Homo sapiens: one gene and its partner. The protein of the gene in region 2 interacts with the protein of the main gene of each other region in a pairwise test. Each region holds a gene or a part of one and is shown on either strand. Other genes may lie near its edges.

What was found.
Region 1: the proteins of TCP11 (region 2) and GSTZ1 interact in binary tests that used the Homo sapiens proteins (3 or more experiments, as listed by UniProt).

What each region holds. Positions count from the first base shown.
Region 1 is NC_000014.9:77,316,073-77,324,269, reverse strand, and holds the start of GSTZ1 (maleylacetoacetate isomerase), read right to left. Parts: upstream 3,235-8,197; 5' UTR 3,102-3,234; coding exon 3,087-3,101; intron 3,004-3,086; exon of another isoform or gene 2,707-3,003; intron 1,724-2,706; exon of another isoform or gene 1,538-1,723; intron 1-1,537. Other genes in the region: POMT2 (protein O-mannosyl-transferase 2), read left to right, coding at 3,589-3,836.
Region 2 is NC_000006.12:35,124,099-35,131,368, forward strand, and holds part of TCP11 (T-complex protein 11 homolog), read right to left. Parts: intron 5,085-7,270; coding exon 4,964-5,084; intron 4,694-4,963; exon of another isoform or gene 4,480-4,693; coding exon of another isoform or gene 4,459-4,479; intron 4,322-4,458; exon of another isoform or gene 4,185-4,321; intron 1-4,184. UniProt on the Homo sapiens protein: Plays a role in the process of sperm capacitation and acrosome reactions. Probable receptor for the putative fertilization-promoting peptide (FPP) at the sperm membrane that may modulate the activity of the adenylyl cyclase cAMP pathway.

The DNA of each region.
Region 1 (8,197 bases), on a different chromosome or scaffold from region 2:
TCAGGAGGTTGAGGTAAGAGAATAGCTTGAACCTGAGAGGTGGAGGTCACAGTGGGCCGAGATCGCACCACTGCACTCCAGAGCGAGACTGCGTCTCAAAAAAAAAAAAAAAAAAAAGGCATTTTTTTCCAACTCGCAGGAAGTTTCTTACGCTCCTGCTGGGGCCAGGTTTGGTGTCCCCCCAACAGAGCGTGGCCTGGTTTTGATGCAGTATTTTGAGTGGTGGAGCGGGCTGGGAGCTGGCATCTGGAGTCTGGACCTGGTGCAGGAACCAGCTCTGCATGACCTTGGACAAACCTCTGCCTTTTTAAATCTTCGGCTCCCTCATTTGTAAAACAAAGGTTGCCCTAAAATGATGGCAGGGCATCCTCTAGCAATGCAGCAAGACAAGGAATTCTAATTTTTTGACGCTTTGGTACATATCTCCTTCAACCCCACCTCCCAGCAGTCCTCCGGGCTCTCGGCTGTCCCCATAAAAACAGCTGGCAGATATGCTCACTCACCCCAAAGGTGAGGTCAAAAGCTGGCAGCTCACTGGGGCCCTATCTGGCCCTCAGAATTTCTGTTTGCTCAACACAGTAGTTTAAAATGTTTCAAGTAGTTGCCAATGTTTAAAAATCAGGACATTTCATTCTAGTATGGTGGGTCATGCCTGTAATCCCAGCACTTTGGGAGGCTGAGGCCAGCAGATCACCTGAGGTCAGGAGTTCGAGACCAGCCTGGCCAACATGGCGAAACAACATGGCTAAACAAAAATTAGCCAGGTGTGGTGGTGTGCATCTGTAATCACACCTACTTGGGAGGCTGAGGTATGAGAATTGCTTGAACCCAGGAGGCGGAGGATACAGTGAGCCAAGATCGTGTCACTGCCCTCCAGCCTGGGGGACAGAGCAAGACTCCATCTCAAAATAAATAAATAATAAAATAAAATAAAAATAAAAATCATGATATTTTATATACAACACCTGTTTGTTTTTTTTCTTTAAAAAAATCTGGAGACAGATTTGGGTTCCTAAATAGCAGCAATTGATGGGAACAGACTAATGGCCCCCATCAACCAGCGTATGCGCTCTCAGGTCTGCCATGGCCCATATCTGGCCCACTTTTCTCATTTTTGTTACCTTTGGGCCCTTGGGGGCAGCTGGGTGTGCGATCTCTACTCCAAGGTTTAAGGGGCTCAAAGTTAATTTCTCTGGTACTTCTTCGGGAGCCAGCATTTCAAAGTGGAACCCAGGAAAGACTCGCCAGTGATTAGCACTCATGAATCTTCCCACCAAAACATGTGTATCCCTATGGATAGGGGAGAACTTGAAAGAACTTCTCAGATGCCCTGTTTACTACCCCTCTGACTATAGACATTTCACCAAAGCTCCCTCTCCCCTCTGCCACCCCTAGCATATTAAGCTGCTCTCTGAACTTGCTATTGCCATCCCTGTACTACCAACTCAGTCTGCTAGATGGCAAGGGTGTAAGTGGGAACCTAGGCCCTTCCAAGATGGTTCCCAAGCCCAGCAGTCCCAGCCTGTCCTGAAGGTACCTTTTGTGGAGAAAGTAAAGATGGTCCTGGCACAGAAAGCAGGTGATGGGCAGAAAGTGTCTTTCGAAGAGGAGGAATTGGGTGGCCACAACTGGATCTTCCTTATTTGGAGATGCAACTCCCTTTCCTTACCTAGCCAGGCTACAGGGACTCCTGGTGCCAAGGGACAGGGACTGCTGGTGACCACTAGAGTGTGGCAGACATTAATTAGCTTAGAATCCCTGAAGAAATGCCTTACCTAATGGCTAAATGCCTTTGGATTACACCTTTGGATCTGTACTACGAGTGACCAGAAGCATGGTAAATGCTGCTGCCCTCCGTCACGACCCACAAGCAGGAAACCTGAAATCTCTTAGGCAATTTCTGCCTTCTCTTACCAGTGATAACTATGTAAACCATGCCCCGTTCCTTTCTGCACTTGTAGAACTAAACTTTAAGCCCAAGTATCCATCTCATCAGCACTCCTAGAAGACCTGTGTTTCCAATTCAAATATGCATTCTGATTACTTTAGCAGATTTTATTTTTAAACCATGTCTTACACATGATTTGAGAAAAAGACTCCTAAAATCCCATTTGGAAGAGGGAGGACTATACATTATTAACGTGACGCAAAGTCCCATCTAACGTGCCACCTTCCTTAGTGCCACAAAAGTGGTTCTCAAACTTCATGGCACGTTAAGAACCATCTAGACCGCTTATAAAAACATGCAGATTCTCGAGCCCGTTCCACCAGAGATGAACAGAGTGGCTCTGGAGCAGGCCCCGGGAAGAACATGTGAAAGCCGTGAAGCTCCCCAGGTGATTGTCATGACTGCCTCTCCTCGCTCGGGGCCTTTTTTTTTTTTTTTTGAGCCGGAGTCCCGCTCTTTCGCCCAGGCTGGAGTGCAGTGGCGCGATCTCGGCTCACTGCAAGCTCCGCCTCCTGGGTTCACGCTATTCTCCTGCCTCAGCCTCCCGAGTAGCTGGGACTACAGGCGCCCGCTACCACGCCTGGCTAATTTTTTTGTATTTTAATAGAGACAGGGTTTCATCGTGTTAGCCAGGATGGTCTCTATCTCCTGACCTTGTGATCCGCCCGCCTCGGCCTCCCAAAGTGCTGGGATTACAGGCGTGAGCCACCGCGCCCGGCCCGGGGACTCTTAAAATACAAACATTACTGGAAGGTCACCTCCTGCTAGGGCCAAGAGAAGAGCATGAAGGGCTGCGAGAAATTGGGAGGCTTGGGGCGACGTTTGGAAGCCTTAGTGGAGGGAGGGGTCTGTTATGGGGAGCAGGGAGGGCGGAGCAGAAGTGAAGCGCGACCGGACAGCGACTCCACCCTGCTACGCACTCCCTACCAGGACCGCCTCCTCTGGCCCAACCCTCCCGGAACTTCGAGCCCCAGCGGGCAGCGCGCAGCACGCAGGCGCAGAGCGTGCCCGGCGCAAAGCACTGCATGCCGGGAGTCGTTGTCGGCCTGGGCGGGCGGTGCAGCTCACTTCTGACCCCGCCCCCCAGGGTCTCCAGGTGTCTAACCAGCTTCCCTCCACCCGGGTGCGCGTCACAGACCTTCCCCGCCTGCATCTGGCACTTCGCGCGACCCCCTCCTCCAGGCCGAGAAACTTCGCGCCTGGGACCTGCCGACGACTAAGGCTCAGTGAGACTCGACGAATCAGGCCCGTGTCTTTCGTCCGGGTAAAGCGAGGGGCTGGACTAGAAAGATCCTTCCGGTCGCCTCTGGCTCGCCCAGCTCTCCCGCCACGCCCCGTACCTGGGGGCTGCTGGGAGTTGCAGTTCCCTGAGCCCGACCCCTCCTGCCCAGTCCCCCCCGCCCCGGGCCGGCCGGCCCTCCCGGTCCCGACATGCTCTGCGCCTCCTGCCGCCTCCTAGCGGCCCGGGCCGCGACCACGCTGCCCGCCCCGCCCCGAGCCCGGGGCCCCGCGCTCCGCTGCAGTGAAGGGCGTTGCATTTCCCGGGGTACCCCGAGCTGCCCTCTTGTGACTCCTTGGCGGGGCGGCTGGTCAGACAAAGTGTGCCTCCGGGCCGGAGGGCGACCCAGAGGAGGGGGAAGATGCCGCCGGCCACGGGCGGAGGCCTGGCAGAGTCCGAGCTGCGTCCCCGGAGGGGCCGCTGTGGCCCCCAGGCTGCTAGGGCCGCAGGCCGGGACGTGGCCGCTGAGGCTGTGGCGCGAAGCCCCAAACGGCCTGCTTGGGGCTCACGGCGCTTCGAGGCGGTCGGCTGGTGGGCCCTGCTGGCCTTGGTGACGCTGCTGTCCTTCGCCACCCGCTTCCACCGCTTGGACGAGCCGCCGCACATCTGGTGAGTGATGGGAGGGACTCGGCGGGCACCATGGCAACCGCGACGGGACGCCGCCCTCTGATTGGCCCGAGGGTACGGAGGGGGCGGGATCTATAGGAGGAGGGCCACGGTGGAGGGGAACTTGAGGTATCGGGTGGGTTGGCCTCTGGCGAGGTGCATTCTCTGGGAGGGGGATCGTTTTGCTCTGGTGGTGGGGCAGTGGGATTCTTAGTATCTGAGGAAGCAGCCCTCATGTCTTCCAGGTTATGCTACAGTGCATCACCTGGCTTGCAAATTGTGGCTTTTAAAGGTGCTTTCAACTTTCCAAAGAGAATTGCAAATTTTTGGGTACAGAATTTTCTAAGGCCTGAGTTCCTATGTCTGCAGGATTTTCAGGCATCAACAGAGGAGAAAATACCTAACTGTGTACCTTTATCCTATAGGGCAAGGACAGTTTGGGTGTTCAGGTATGGTGACCAAAGGATTTTATGAGGCAGAACTCTTCTTGTGAGAAGAGATTTATTTTCTTAAAGGTTTTAGCTTGTACTATCCAGATACTGGGTGTCAGAAATGGAATTCTTTAAGCAAAAAGCAGGCAAGAAAACAGACTGTCAGGGTTGCTTTATTTAGAAATTAATAAATTAGCTTGTTATTGTGTCGTGACTGCTGGCAGAAGATGAGACTCCTGGGTTAGAGACAAAGGACTTTATTACAGGAAATAGGATGCATGTTAGAAGCAGTTTCCCTTGCCATCCAAGTCCCACAGGGTGACGCTATGGGTTTAAATGGATGACTGCACAGGCAGTGGGTTGCATCCAAGTGAAGGAACGACAAGCTTGGAAAATCTGCTGTTTTATAGAAGGCAGTACGCAGACCTCCTCTTTGTCCTGGAGGGAGACACTGCCTCTTCTCTCAAAGTTGCTTGCTGCAAACACAACCATGAGAAATGGCCCAGGTGAGATGCAGTCAGGGCCTTGCATTCTTGGTATACCCAGAATGATGTGTAGAGGCACGAGCAATCTGACAGCCTCTCTCACTCCTCGATTCTATGGTCTTGGCTTCTAGCAGATTTTCACATGAATATACAACTCCCCTGGCTACTCACATCTTTTCAGTTTGTCCCTTACAGCATTTAATTAAGGTTGTTGTCAATGGGACTCTAAGCAGCAGAATAAGGCCAGCTTACAGTATTTACCTCAACCATGCCCTCCAGGGTCCTGGATTCAGCCACTTGTGAATAAGTCCTGGGGGCACCGAGGAATCTTATTTCAGACATCTGGGCTGCAGTCTAAGACCAGTCTATTAACCACTGTGACCTGTGCACAGGGGTTCAGATTGATCTCTGATCTTTGGTGTCATTACCAGTAATTACAATAGCCCACTACCCTTGTAAAAATTTTTTTAAGAAAGTAATTACCAGGCTGGGCGCAGTGGCTCACACCTGTAATCCCGGCAGTTTGGGAGGCCGAGGCGGGCAGATCACCTGAGGTCAGGAGTTCGAGACCAACCTGGCCAACATGGTGAAACTCCGTCTCAACTGAAAATACAAGACTTAGCCGGGCATGATGGCGGGTGCCTGTAATCCCAGCTACTCGGGAGGCTGAGGTGGGAGAATCACTTGAACCTGGGAAGCAGAGGTTGCAGTGAGCTAAGATCGCACCATTGCATTCCAGCCTAGGCGACAAAGCCAGACTCTGTCTCAAAAAAAAAAAAAAAAAATTAACTACCATGATTAATGGAAAGATATTTTGTGACCCATTCTTCCTTACACTAACATATTACTTGGAGGAGTGCAGGCCACTCCAGGATTTTTGTTAGATTTTTATTTGGATCACCATCAAATTTGATTACCATTACAGTGGTTTAAACCACATGGGCAGTGTCACTGAACAGTTGCAGCCTCAATCACTAGACAAGGCATAACCTAAGTAAGGCCCTTAGGATCTCAGGAGAAGCATGTGATTTGTATCAGCCGCATTGATAGAAGGTGGTGCTGATCTGTGTGTTTGCACACCTATGAGGGAGGTCTGCGTTTGGGAGTTGGTGTTGATGTCATCAGGCACGTGGGAATAGTTCAAGACTGGCCGTGTCCATGTGAGTTTTTGTTTTCTTTTTTTATTTTCTTTTTTATACTGACCTGCTAGATAAAGTTTTTATGTTTTCATAGTGAGATGACAAACTCAGCCACAGGTCAGATTGCCAGCCACAGTTGCTGCTTGACCTAGATGGACCATGTGAATGTTTGCCAGGCTTTGGTGCTGGATAGGGACAAAGAGAACATTGTTTCCCTTCTCTTTACATCTCCAGGGTCCTGTGGTGTTCCTTCCCCAGATGCCAGGATTGTTTCTTTCCTTCCATTGCTACATAATGAGTGTGTCCTACCCTAGTAACTATAACTTCACCTTTTCTCCATTTATCCCCTACCAATACGCAGGCCTTCTAATATCCAATTGTTAGAAAATTGACAGAGGCCCATTATGTCTTCTACCTTGACACATGTGGGCCACTGTAGGGGGACTTTAAAAGCACTATACCCAACCAAATGATCATTAACTTTATGTTCTGGCACCAGGCCATTCCAACAAGACAATCTAGTGACTGAACTAGAATTAAGTCTGAATTACATAGATAGCCTCCTCCTCCCAGCTGATCTGGGCTTTCTGTAAGGGGGAAGAAAGATGAATCATGGCCAGAAATGGTCAGGGGAGAATCTCACATTTTCAAAATAGGTTTATATAACCCTCCACCCCTTTTTCCTGATCATTACCCAGTTGGTAGGCAAAAGGAGATGACCCATTTCTGAGAATGGCTGCCTTAGGTGACCAAACTGCTTCAGTAAGGTTTGCAGACCAGGAGGAGGTTAAAAACATAGAATCAAAAATCTTTTTGAGTTGATCTTTGAGGGAACTGTTCAGTACTTGACAATGTCATGCCTGTGGATGGTAGGGAGTGTGGGAGGTCCATCGAATACCTTGGCTATTGACTGTTGACACTGTTGGGTGGCCATTGCGACAAAAAGATATGCCAGTGTCAGACTGTAGATGGTTTGGAAAGCAGAAAACCTGGCAGTTTAGTTTCAAGGGCCACAGTGGTATACACAGAGTCAGATAATTGGACTGGAAAAGCAACATCAGCACTGTAAACTGAAAAAGTATCAGCAGTAGCAAGGTACTGATGAGAGCCTAGAGAAGGGAACAAAGTCCTAATGTCAATCTCCCAGGAGCAGGTGTGGTCAGTGCCCCTTGCAATGTGGCTTCCTTTACTGCAAGACAAGCAGGCCAACTTTTGGCAGGAGTCACAAGTCTGGCACGCAGTGGTGGCTTCTGCCTCAGAAACATGTAGTCCCTTACGTTGTGCCTAGCCCATGATGGTAGATGTTTCCACACCGGTTGCATGAATCCAGGTGGCTATGGCAGCAGTCTTGGTGGTGCAGGCTGGATCAGCAGTTTGATTCCAGTCAGTCTTACGAGAGTACCTGCCCTTAGTGTGGGCACCTACGTGAGTGATCCAGTCTGTCCTATTGGCAGGCAGCCATGATGTGTTTCCACACTTCTCAGCTTTCATCTCTCAGTATTTAGTCTTCCAAGTGGCATACCAAATGCTTCAATCCTTACTGCCATCAGCCATCCAGAGTTATCATTGGGGCTAAGTGCCTGCTGCTGCTTGGTGGGCAACATCAGCTTTTAACTCAGCCTAATCATTGGTGAGCCAGGCCTAAGCATTTACAGGAACCCCTGTGAATCAAGGGCCCTACTGAACAGCAGCTCGGCTTCAGGTAGCAGAGAAGGTTGTTTCTCCCAGAGTGGGAGCTGCCACTTCTTCACGTAAAACCAAGATGCCTCTAGGGCCAGGCTAGCTATACTCTTTTTTTTTTTTTTTTTTTTTTTTAGAGATGAGATCTGACTCTGTTGCCCAGTCTGGAGTGGAGTGGTACAATCATAGCTCACTGCATCCTCAAACTCCTGGGCTCCTCCTGTCTCAGCCTCCTGAGTAGCTGGCACTACAGGCACGTGCCACCATGTCCAGCTAATTAAAACAGATTTTTTAAGAGCTGAGTTCTCACTATCCTGCCAAGGCTGGTCTTGAACTCCTGACCTCAAGCCATCCTCCTGCCTCAGCCTCCTGAATAGCTGGGATTACCAGCTGTACTCTTGAATGTACTATTTCCATAGGATCAGTGAGGCTTGTTAAACCCTTCCCTTGTTATCAGTAGATTCCCATTGACCCACCCCAAAGTGGGAATACTAGGCCAGGGAGTCCTGAGGCCTTTATGGGTCTGGCAATCAATTTCAAAGTGTTGAGTAGTTAACTAAGGAGTTAATAGCTGTCCTTTTAAAAAGGGTGTGCTTGGTACCTATGTCCAGCAGGTGGCACTGTGATTC
Region 2 (7,270 bases):
TCGGATTTTTGAGGCAACATGCACCACATTTGTGTTTGCTACTTTGACATTCATTTGAGTGATTTTGATTTATTTAGAATCACTCGAGGTTACCCATATGTCGTGGGGGATGGGGGAGTGCTAACTAACTAGAGCAAGAGTAGGCTCTGCAGCAAGTTTAGACTGTAGTACAAGCCACTCTACCATTTGGGCCTTATGATCCTGCAGATCCAATGACACTTTAAGTGTCCATAGCAAATAAGGGTGCTGTACAGAATGTCTTGCAAGCACCAATAAGGGAACCACACATGGACCTTTAGGAATTGGGAGCAAATCTATTCCTTCTTTAATGATAATTATTCACCTTTTGAGAAACAACTTCTTGGGCCTTGGTAGAAAGTAAACACCTTACTATAGAACACTGGGTAACCATGTGGCCTAAGCTTCCCATCAGGAATTAGGTATTGTCTAACTTACGTAGCTACAAGACTGGACATGCACAGCAGCAATCTATTATCAAATGAAAATGGCTTATAAGAGACCAAGCATATACTGGTAATAAGAACAGATACACAGACCAAAAGAATAGAGAGCTGATAAATAAAACCTGGATATATAAGGTCAAATGATTTTCAACAACAATGCCAAGAACCAATGGGGAAAGGACAGTCTTTTCAACAAATGGTGCTGGGAAAACAGGATATTCACATGCAAAAGAACAAAGTTGGACCTTTACCTTACCCCCATATAAAAATATTAATTCAGTTGTGCACATGTACCCTAAAACTTAAAGTATAATAAAAAATATATATATATATTAATTCAAAATGGTAGTGGCTCACGTCTGTAATCCCAGCACTTTGGGAGGTCGAGGCAGGCGGATCACCTGAGGTCAGGAGTTTGAGACCAGCCTGAGCAAAATGGTGAAACCCCATCTCTACTAAAAATACAAAAAATTAGCCGGGCGTGATAGTGCACACTTGTAATCCAGCTACTACTTGGGAGGCTGAGGTGGGAGAATAGCTTGAACCAGGGAGGCAGAGATTGCAGTGGCCAAGATCGCACCACTGCACTACAGCCTGGGTGACAGAGCAAGACTCTGTCTCAAAAAAAAAAAAAAAAGAAAGAAAAAAGAAAAAAAGGACCTAAACATAAGAGCTAAAACTACAAAACTCTTTGGAGAAAACATAGGTGTAAATATTCATGATCTAGGATTTGGCAGGATTTGACACCAAAAGCATAAAATTCAATAAAAGACAATCCAATTTAAAAATGGACAAAGTACCTGAGTAAACATTTCTTTGAAGAAGATGTACAAATAGCCAACAAACACACGAACAGATGCTCAATATCACTAGCCATTAAGAGAAATGCAAGTCAATGAGATACCACTTCACACCCATTAGAATGGCCATTACCAAAAATGGAAAACAGCAAATGCTGGCTAGGATGTGGAGAAATTGGAACCCTGGTACATTGCTGGTAGGAATATAAAATGGTGTGGCTACAACAGAAAACAGTTTGGCAGTTCCTCAAAAAGTTAAACATAGAATTACCATAGGATCCAACAATTCCAACTTTAGGTATATACCCAGAAAAATTAAAAGCAGGGACTCAAATATATACTTGTACACAAGGTTTACAGCAGCATTATTTACAATAGCCAAAAGGCATAAAGAACCTAAACGTCCATCAACAGATGTATGAACAAAATGTATTCTATCCATATAATAAGAATATTATTCAGCCATAAAAAGGAATTACATTCTGATATATGCTACAATATGGATGGACCTTTAAAACATTACACTAAGTTAAACAAGTCCAAAACTAAAAGGACAAATATTGTATTCCATTTATAAGTACCTAGAGTAGTCAAATTCATAGAGACAGAAAGTACAGGTGCTAGTGGGAGAGGGGAAAGGGAAATTATTGTTTAATGAGTACAAAATTTCTGTTAGGGAAGATTCAAAGGTTCTGGAAATGGATAGTGGTGATGGTTATATTGTAAATATACTTAATGCCAGTGAACTGTAACACTAAAAAATAGTAAATTTTGTTATGAATATTTTGCCACAACAAAAACAAATCCTAAAAAAAATTAAATAAATTTTTTAAAGCCCCCAATATGGCCCATTCCCCAGGGAGGATCAGTCAGCCATCTTATGGCAGATGATTTCACTGGACCTCTAACAGTTTAGAGAGGGCGAGATTCATCCTTACTGGGATAGACACATATTCTGGATATGGAGTTGTCTTCCCTGTTTGCCATGCTTCTGTCAGTACCAGCATCCAGATAATCACAGAATGCCTTATCAGCTGTCCTGGGTCTTTGCCTACTCCATTGCATTGCATCTGCTCAAGGAACTCATTTCACAGCAAAGGAAATGCAGTGAATTCATACCTACTAAATTAACTGGTCTGACCAAAAAGCTTTCACTGAGAATCAGCTGGCCCTAACTAAAAAGTAGAATGGCTTATTTTAGACTCAATTACAGCATTAGGTGAGCAACAATACCTGAAAGGAAGGGAATTGGTCTTACAGGATGCAATATATGCTTTGAATCAAAGACTTTTTTTTTTTTTTTTTTTTTTTTTTGAGACAGGGTTTTGCTCTGTTGCCCAGGTTGGGGCACAGTGACACAATCATGGCTCACTGCAACCTGTGCCTCTCAGGCTCCAGCAATCCTTCCGTGTCAGTCTCCTGAGTAGCTGGGAATAGAGGCATGTACCACCACACCCAGTTAATTTTTCTATTTTTTGTAGAGATGGGTTTCACCACATTACCCAAGCTGGCCTCAAATTCCTAGACTCAAGCATTCTGCCCACCTGAGCCTCCCAGAGTGTTGAGATTACAGGTGTGAGCCACTGTGCCTGGCTTCAAAGACCATTCTATGGTGCTGTCCCCTAATGCCAGAATACATGGGTCCAGGAATCAAGCAGTAGAAGTAGGACTGCTTCCTCTTACTAGCACACCTGATAACCCACTTGCAGGATTTTTGTTTCCCATCCTGCCAACTTTGAGGTCTGCTGATTTGTGTGAAATACTTGCATTGGTTCCAATGAAACAGAAGATGAAACTGACCATTGGGGGCTCCTTATACCACTGAACCAAAAGGGTAAAAAAAGGAGTTACTGTACTGGATGCCGTACTTGCTCCTGAGTACCAATGAGAAATTGGATTGTGGCCACACAATGGGGGTAAGAAAGACCATGCCTGAAACTCAGGAGATTCTCTGAGTTGCCTCTTAGTACTTCCAAGCTCAATATTAAAGGTTAATGGAAAACCACAACAAACAAAGCAAAATGTCTCAGACTCTTTGGCAATGAAGGTTTGGGTCACTGCACCAGATAAAGAACCCCAACTAGCTGAAGTTCTGGCCAAGGACAAGGGAAATATGGAATGAATGAATCGTGGAAGAAGGAAGCCATAGATAACAACTATAGCCTTGTGACCAGTTATGGAAACAAGGACTATAAATTTTATCTTTGCTTATTATATGTATGTTTATTTATATATGCCAACATTTTGTTCTTCCTCTTTCTTTCCATTGTTATTTTATATACAAGTTGTTAGAAGTTAAATTTTATGATTTAGCCTTTAGGTAACACAATAGTCAGTGAAACTGGCTGAATTTGAGGAGCGGCCAGTGATGGATACAATAACTATTTGGGCCATGTCTCCTCATTTTGGGGGAGGATAAATAATAAATAGCTATCTGTCTTGTAAGAGTTCTTTTCAGGAATTCAAATGTGTATAGAAGAGCGCATGTGGAAACTGAGTAGCCGAAGGGGTGGACTGTGCCATTTATCAATATATTGCCTCACAGATCCAAATCCATTGTTCTTTGCTCTGTGAAAATGGAACTAAGTCCTTTCCATATCTTTCCTTTGCCAGATAGCACATTTTAAGCTTCACCGGCAGAAAGTGTTATTTAGTTTTCTGTGCTGTGTAACATACTGCCATAATCCTAGCAGCTTATAAGAACACACATTTATGATCTCAGTTACTGTGGGTCAGAAGTACAGACGCAGTTTAGCTGGGTCCTCTGTTCAGGGTCTCACAAGTCTGCAAGCAAAGTGTTAGCTGGGCTGCATTCTCATTTGGAAACATGACTGGGAAAGATTCCGTTTCCAAGCTCATTCAGATTGTTGGCAGAATTCATTTCCTCACAACTGTATACTTGAGGGCCCCAGCTTCTTACTGGCTATTGTCTGGATGCTAACCCCGGGTCCTAGAAGCCACCTGCAGCTCCTTGCTATGTGGCCCTCTCGATAGGCAGTTCACAACACAGCTGTTTGCTTCTTCAGGGCCAGCAGGAGAATCTCTCCCTCCAGTCTCCTAAGACAGAGTATTACATGATGAAATGTAATCATGGGAGTTATATCCCATCACTTTTGCCGTACTGCTTAGAAGTTGCAAATCTCATCCACTCAAGGGGAGAAGATTATACAAGGGTGCAGAACATTGTGGGTCACCTTACGGTATGTCTGCCACATACTAGAAAGACATTGCAAAGGCAAGAGCTTTTATTCCCGGTTCTGGTATGTTCACTCAGCAGGCTCCTGCAGTACTTGGCTCCTGCAGCATGAATAGCTTCTCCAGTGCTTGGTTCCTGCAGTGCACTGTGGTCAGCAGCATACACAGGCCAGTAACGTCTCATGGCATAGCTATGCCCTCTCAAATGAGGTCCTTGGTTGGCCTCTCTCAGCCCTAAGGGTATGATAGATGCCCTTTTATCTGATATTCAAGGATTCTTTAGTTTTCCTTACTCTTACTAGCCAAGCCCTCATTTCTCCTACTCTCTGTTATAATAATTTTTATATTAAACCCTCCCTGCTAAAATTACTGTATGATTTCTGTCTATTGCTTAGTCTCTGACTGATTCATGGACCATGTTCAGTTAAGATTTGCTAGCCACTGACACTCCAATGAGCTGGAGATGTCTAGAAACTTTACATTTACAAATGGAAGGTCACTCACCTCTTTAATTTCTTTCAGAAGTTCAAGAGCACAGCTGAAGTCAGGGGGAGTTGCTGATAGTTGCTCTTTAAGATGGTCCCAAAAGGCATTGTGCACTGTCTCCTTGACCTTGCCTTCCAGACTATAAGAGGGTTAAATGAGCAGATTACTCTCTCAACCCAAAAACAGTTACAGTGTCATAACCTCCTAAACCCCAAACTGAATTTGATATGGTAAAAGGCCATTATAATAACAGGGAAAGGCCAGGAACTATGTTGGAACTGCAGCAGAGTTGAACAAGCTAGGGTTAGATTTGTATTTCAAGGGCAATGGCAAAACCTCTCAGAAGGGCTCCTTGTGGTTCCAGAGCAGCCCTCTCTCTGCAGTAGAAAGAACCCTGAATGGAGAGAAGTCAGGCTGACTTTTAGCACTGACTGTGCATCTAGCCTAGATAACTTGATTTCCATTTGTGTATACACATAGCATTGAGCTAAATGATCTTTCATTTTCTTATACTCCTGAAATCTAGGAAAGGATATTGCTTCTTTGAAAATACCAAAGGTCCACAGATATTTCCAAATCAGCGTATCTAAAACTAAATTCATTATCTTCCTCCTCCAAACCTGCTCCTCTTGTATTCCCAATTTCAGTGGCACTACCATCTATATAGTAATGGAAGCCAGAAAGAAGTCTTTTTTTTCACCTTGAAAAAAATACAAGGAGCAAAGGAAATTTGTTTTATTTTATTTTTTGAGACAGGGTCTCACTCTGTTGCTCAGGTTGGAATGCGATGGCACAATCAAGGCTCACTGAAGCCTCAACCTCCCACGCGCAAGCAAATCTCTTGCCCCTGCCTCCTGAGTAGCTGGGACCACAGGCATGAGCCACCGTGCCAGCTAATTTTTTTATTTTTTTATTTTTAGTAGAGATGGGGGTCCCGCTATGTTGCTCGGGCTGGTCTTGAACTCCAGGGCTCAAGAAATCCACTTGCCTCTGCCTTCCAAAGTGCTGAGATTACAGACGTGAGCCACTGCACCCAGCCAAGGCAATTCAATTTAGAAATGAGGGTCTTTCAACAAATAATGTTGGAACAACTAGATATCTAAATACAAAAAAATAAAGAATCTAAACACAAGCCTTAAACTCTTCACAAAAGTTAACTCAAAATGGATCACAGACCTACTTGTAAAATACAAAACTGTAAAACTTGTAGAAGATAACATAGGAGGAAATATAGGTAACCTTGAGTTTGGTGATGACCTTTTAGATACAATGCCAAAAACATAATCCACAAAAGAAAAAATTGCTAAGTTGGACTTCATTAAAATTAAAAACTTCTGCTCTGTGAAAGACACTGTTAAGAGAACAAAAAAACAAGACACACACTAGGAAACAATCTTTGAAAAATATATATCTGATAAGGATATATATCCAAAACATACAAAGAACTCTTAAAACGCAACAATAGGAAAATGAACAACCATTAAAAAATAGGCCAAAGACCTTAACAGACATCTCACCAAAGAGGATGTTCAGATGGCAAATAAGTATATGAGAAGACGCTCAACATCATTTGTCATTTGGGAGTTGCAAATTAAAACAACAAAAAGAAAAAAAAAAGACACCGCTATATGACACCTATTAGAATGGCCAAAATCAGAAAACTGACAACACTAATGGCTGACCAGGATATAGAGAAATAGGAACTCACATTCACTGCTGGTCAGATGTAAATGGTACAACCAGTTTGGAAGGCAGCTGGGCAGTTTCTTACAAAAGTAAATATACTCTTACATATGATCTGGCTATCACGCTCCTGGGTATATACCAAAATGAGTTGAAAGCTTATGTTCACACGAAAACCTGCACACAAATGTTTATAGCAGCTTTATTCATAAGTGCCAAAACTTAGAAGCAACAAAAATGTCCTTCAACTGATAAATAAACTGCCCATAAAATGGAATATTATTCAATGATAAAAAAATGATTTGGGAGGCTGAGGCAGGTGGATTACTTGAGGTCAGGGGTTCAAGACCAGCCTGACCAACATGGTGAAAACCTATCTCTACTAAAAATACAAAAATTAGCTGGGTGTAGTGGTGTACGTCTGTAATCCCAGCTACACAGGAGGCTGAGGCAGGAGAATCGCTTGAACCCAGGAGGCAGAGGTTGCAGTGAGCCAAGATTGTGCCACTACACTCCAGCCTGGGCAACAGAGCGAGACTCCATCTCAAAACAAAAAGAAGGCCGGGCGCGGTGGCTCATGCCTATAATCCCAGCACTTTGGGGGGCCGAGGCGGGCGGATCACCTGAGGCCAGGAGTTCGAG